2 separate regions of the Homo sapiens genome follow, and region 2 is linked to region 1. Evidence: fine-mapped expression QTL. A gene starts in region 1. The other region holds a variant in brackets. All regions are shown on one strand. Distances are from middle to middle.

What was found. PIP is the estimated chance that this variant, and not a neighbour inherited with it, causes the effect.
Region 2: its variant is fine-mapped to the expression of PPP2R2B in blood mononuclear cells (TOPMed, PIP above 0.99).

Annotation. Positions count from the first base shown.
Region 1 is chr5:146,877,414-146,880,322 of GRCh38, forward strand. PPP2R2B (protein phosphatase 2 regulatory subunit Bbeta) reads right to left here and starts at 1,344. Exons shown (of 10, transcript NM_181675.4): 1 at 1,178-1,344; 2 at 589-782. The coding sequence starts at 658.
Region 2 is chr5:146,821,995-146,824,903 of GRCh38, forward strand. All of the region lies in intron 2 of PPP2R2B (protein phosphatase 2 regulatory subunit Bbeta), which reads right to left. Among named protein-coding and RNA genes, the nearest start is that of PPP2R2B, 55 kb to the right of the region's middle. The variant GC/G (reference allele first, on the strand shown) is at 1,243.

The sequences.
Region 1 (2,909 bases):
TCGCTGCCCGCCAGAGCACTATTTCCCCAGCCACCTTTTTATTTTTGCTAATGCACTTCCAAAAGGAAAGAGGTTCGCCCGTCTGCAAAGGGCTTTTTGGGGTTTTGATTGTCTAAGCAGGTAACCTGGCCGGCCGGGGAGATGAATGGGCAGGAAATGAAACCTTGCCCTCCCTGCAGCCACTGAGAGACATAACATCGTTTCGCTCAGGGAGGGGGGACCAAGGTCCTACTGGGCCCCTCCCTTCTTATCTCCCCCCAAGACCCCTGCGAACATCTCGGGGAAGGGGTCATCTGCCTTCCTGGGGTCATCTTTCTGGGCGAGAGCCCCACCCTGAAAAAGCCTAATCCCTGAGGGCCATTTTAACTCCCGTGGGCGCCGGGTCCACCTGCTGCTGAACGCCGAGCTCGCCTCGCGGAGCCCGGATGGATGCGAGGTGCACTGGGGCTGCCGGGGCCAGCCGAGCCCCCGCCCCAGCCCTAGGGCCCGGAGGAGTCTCCGCCACTACGCGCCCAGCTGCCCAGGAAGCACAGTGATCCGCAACTTGCGCCCGGCCCCAACGGCGGAATGCGGCGGGGCTGGCGTTACCTTCGGTCGCATAGCTGTGGTCGCGCAGGAAACTGTTGTTGATTTTGCGGGTATCAATGTCCTCCTCCATTGACAGCAGGCTTACTTGCGTGGGAACCAGAAGCCGGCAGACAAGTATCCATGATCCCTCCCCGCAGCCAGTCTCACAGGAGAGGGGGGCAGGGGAGCCAGTGGGACTGCACCATGGTCCGAGCCTGAGGAGGAGACGGGGAGGCGGAGAGAAAAAAAATAAAAACCCGGCAATGGAGCTGTCACCTCCTCCACTCGGGTTCTGCGAGGCTGCGGCGGCTCCTCCCGCGCGGTGCGCTCACTCCAGCTCCAGTTCCCAGCGAGGATGCTGCGCCTGCCTCCGCTGCCTCCGGGTGCCAAGATACGCCGTGCCCCGAGGGGTCTGGTCCCGCCCGCCCGCCCCGGAGGCGCTCACAAGCGGGTCTGGGGAGATGCCCAACAGGTTCCCCTCCTTGGCAGCCGCTCCAAAATGCAAAAAAGATCCCTCCTCCCCCTGGGAGAGCGGGCAGCCGCGACAAAATGGTGCCTTTCTGGACCCGAGCTGCAGTGGCGAGATGGCAGGGACAGGATTCAGGCTTGCCTGGCCGGAATGAGGGTGCTGGTCCCACGGGAGGGCGGCTCCGGCAGGCGGGGGTAGGGAAGCTGGCGGGGAGCTGGGCAGGGCGCTGCAGCCGGCGCCAGCGCACTCACCCTCACACCCACACGCGCGCACTCGCAGCTGCTGCTGCTGCTGCTGCTGCTGCTGCTGCAGGAGGCTGGAGGCGGCTGGTGCATTAAAGGCGAGGCTCCTCCCAACCGCGTCAGCAGCCCCACGACTCTTTCCCAGCAGCAGTGGTGGCCGAGGCAGAGGCTGCGGCTGCTCTTTGCTGCAGTGGGGCGCATGCAGCCGCGAATCGGCACCTGGGCAGCAAGCGACTAGCTTGCAGGTTCAGGTGGAACGCATAGACGCGCTCTTCCAACCTCCTCCCCTCTCGCGCCACTCAGCTAAGGGCCACGTCTACGCTAGCACCCAGAGCCCCTAGCTCCCTGCCTTTCTCCGGACGCCTGAACTTGAGAACAGCAAAGAGAAGTAGGTTCCTTTGGATAGTCAGGAAGTCTACATCCAGGTCCCTTTTCCTCACCCTTATATGATGCATGTGGTCCCTTGGTGAATTTAAAGGGCGAGGTTTGGGGCTCGAAGCTTCAGAAAAAGAGGAGAAAGTGGGAAGTGCCGCTCAGAGCCTATCTTAAGCCCTCTAGTAGGAATAGGAGGGGGATCAGGGGCCAGAACTTTGCAACTGGTTCCCCCATTCCTAAGAGTCAAAATACCTTCTAACTGTAGGAGGCTGGTGTTCAATAAAGCATCTGTGTCTACACAGGTGGAGGAAAGCACCAGACTAGTAAACAGGATCAGTCTGAAAAAGTCCACTCTCCCTTGCAGTTTGCACTTCGTTTTGGACAAATTATTGCAGCCTCTCCGTTAGGTTTTGCTTGTGCAGGAACACCTTCTATTTGCTGTCAGCATGGAAGGTACATTGAAGCACAGAAACATAAGCATAAGAGCCCTGTGCCCACAGAGAGCCACTGCTACCCTGGGGGAATTTCAGGAGTCCAATTAATACAGAAAAGAGACCTGTCTTCCTACTTCAACTAGGAAGAAAATGTAGAATTCCCTCCCCACCCATGTTTTCCCAAATTTCAAACTCTACTTTTGAAAGAAAATGAGATTACTATTGTTATGAAACAACCAAAAACATTTAATGAAGCAACCCAAATCACTAGAAAGCCAATTTGGAAAAGACATCAACCCCAATCAGTAGAAAGCCAATTGGAAACGACATTTCCTAGGTTTCATCTTGTAGAAGGTATTCATTTCAATGGGTACCACTGTAGGGAGAGACATCAGCAAATGTTTTGCTCAGTTAAGCTCCACAAGTTTAGCTAGATGGGCCCAGAGGGACCTATGAGTTAATTATATACATACAATGCTTCGGCTAACACAATTTAGAAAGTATTTGAAGTTCAGAAAAATGGAAAAACAAGTCCTTAACTGAGGTTGGGAATTGTCATTAGATTTCCATGCAGTATGGATACTTCTGGTAGATAGAAAATGACATCTTCCTCATCTCCAGAAATTGACTGCATATCCCTGGGAGAAAAGAGCAGAAATGTTCCTTGACATAGTTATTTTGTGTGTGTGTGTGTGTGTGTGTGTGTGTGTGTGTGTGTGTGTGTGGTGGGGGGAGTTCAGTTCAACTTTCAATAGATTCTATTTTATTTTCATCTAGTGCTTAAGACTTATACACTTGTTTGTTCAAAATCCACATTTAAAA
Region 2 (2,909 bases), 55 kb before region 1:
GTAAGACTAGAACTCAGCCTTTGAGTGTTATTTCCGTGTAAAACATTGTCTCACATTTCAAAAATGAGTCCATCTAAAAATGATATAGCTGTCCAATCCTTTGTACTATGCTGTGTAGTTTTCCTAAATATGCTTATTTTACAAGAAAAGAAAGTTCGTAAAATAACAAATTGGTAAGATGCCAGAAGAAGGACTGGCTCCTCAATTTAGAGCAGAGCCTTGCAAATGAGGATGAACATTTGAAAGAGCGATCTTCTGGAAAGCATAACTCAGATTACATCATTTTCTTGCTTCTAAGCCCTCCAGTGACTTCTCCTTGCTCTCCAAATAAAATCACCCATCTTTTCATGGCCTCCAAGCCTCCATATGGTCTGGATCCTGCCTAACTCTCATACCACTGTTGTCTGTTTCAGTCATCATACTCAGGTTGCACTGGTCTTCTGTTTCTCATACTCTCCACATTCATTACTGCTCCAGGGCCTTTGCATTTACTATTTTCTCTCCAGGAAGTCCTCATTCCCTAAATTTTCTTCATTTTTGGTTTTTTTTTTTTTTTTGCTTTTTAGGTTGTCCTGTCAAGAATACTTCTCCATCTAATATATTTGTTTACCACCCACTCTCTATATCCTTAACTTGTCCTAATCTCTCCATACCATTTATCAACATATAAAATTCTCATTTGCTTTGTGGGTTCTTCCTCCCACAGATTATTATTAGAAAAGAGAGAAATCTTGATCTTGCTCACTTCTTTATGACCAACACATGAAACAGTGATTGATACATAGTAGATATTCAGTAAACATTTGCTAAATGAAGAAATAAGCTTCTTTTATCACCACTAAAGCACCAAGATAAGTCTTTCCGTGCCTTTGTCATCTAGATTTATATAACCTCCTTAAAACTAAAAGCAATGCAGTCCCCAAATTTAGAACTTGTAGGAAGAAGTGAGCAAATTGCAAACATCATTCTTACATCCTTGAGAAAAAAAGACTTTTGTTTTTCTTTATATTTAAGGAAAGCTGAGTCTTTTGGCAAAAGGGACTGTTTGGAGACACTCCCTCCATGTGAACCAAAAGGTTACACATGCTTCTTCTCCAGTTTGGAGCTCAGCCCCCTGTTCTGGTTTCAATCTGGAGATTTCATCTGACAGCCTGCATATCACTACCTATGGTGGACTTGCTCTGTGGCCAGAGTTTACTTCTTCTTCTTCTTCTTTTTTTTGAGATGGAGTCTTGCTCTGTC[GC/G]CCAGGCTGGAGTGCAGTGGCATGATCTCGACTCACTGCAACCTCCACCTCCCAGGTTCACTCCATTCTCCTGCCTCAGCCTCCTGAGTAGCTGGGACTACAGGCGCCCACCACAAGGCCCGCCTAATTTTTTTTATTTTTGATAGAGACGGGGTTTCACCATGTTAGCCAGGATGGTCTTGATCTCCTGACCTCGTGATCTGCCCTCCTCGGCCTCTCAAATTGCTGGGATTACAGGCGTGAGCCACTGCACCTGGCCCAGAGTTTACTTAGACGGCACACCACATAACGAGCAGAACGTGCACTGAGATGGGAAGAACAGATTTTCCAAGTAGTTTAATTTCGAGAATTAACTTAAAAATTATCTGGTAACCTCATTCCTAATGTCATAGTGCCACGTCCACTTTAAAGTTTAAAATCTTGGAAATGGATTCAATCATCCATGACAAACATATGTTGTTCTTCTCAAGCAGAAGTATAAAATAATTCTTCTCCCTAACTTTCTGAATTTTCCTTTTAATAACTTGAAAAAATAACAGCCCTTAGTAGCCCACCTGTGTGTTAACAGTGATTTTTGCAAAACATAGCCAAACAGAAGTCCCTGTTTGCCTCATTTCAAGTTAATTTGAAAAAGAAAAGTTGGCTCAACCAAACTTATGCTGTAATGGTCCTTGCTTACAAGTCAGCAAGTACCATCTGAAAGCTTAGGGGTAGCACTCCATTTCCCTCCTGGATCCCTGGTAGTAGATGTGCATGCAAAGTGAATGCAGGTACAAACACCAAGTGCTCTCCCAACAGGTTTCCACTGTCATCTTCTTCACTTATAAGCAGCTAAGCCACAAATTCCCCTCTATCAGATGTCACAGGAAGCTACACAAAGTAGGATTTGAAATGTATATATGTAATTATGTCAAATCTGATGGCAACATAATTTACTGAAGAGCAGAAAGCTTATTGAACATGAGGCTATTTCTATTCCAAAAGCCTAGAACATAGAGTCAGTCTCATCCTCCCAACCCAGCCTTAAAAATCAGATGGAGATTCATGACATGGAAAGAATCACAGGGAAGATGTTCACATTGGTAGTGAGTTTGCCTCAATTTGTGTTCCTCATGACCATCTCTAGTTTTCAGGCCAATAAGGGCAGATACTGCTGGTAGAGCAGCCATGTTATATGATTTCCAATTTGTGAGTTAGCTCTTTGGCTCCCTAGGGTACCTTCAATAGCTATAGAATTAGCATCTATTGCTTTTCATTTGGTTCTTATCATCACAGAAGAGGGTTGGCCATACATAGAATAGTTGAGTTTTGGGGGAAAGCATTGGGTAAGAGGAAGGGAGTATGCACTAGAAAAAGTAGACTCATGACACACACTGTGGTAGAGTGGTAATTTTTGAAACGGGCTTTAACAGAGATAGAAAGAAAACTGTATGAAAACTCTTCATAATAATTAATTAAGCCTCTCTTAGTCCTAAATTGAGAAAAATGCAAGAATCAATACTTTTTTTTTTTTTTTTGAGATGGGGCTGAAGTGCAGTGGTGCAATCTCGGCTCACTGTAACCTCTGCCTCCTGGGTTCAAATGATTCTTCCACCTCAGCCTCCTGAGTAGCTGGGATTACAGGTGCCCACCACCACACCTGGCTAATTTTTTGTGTGTGTTTTTA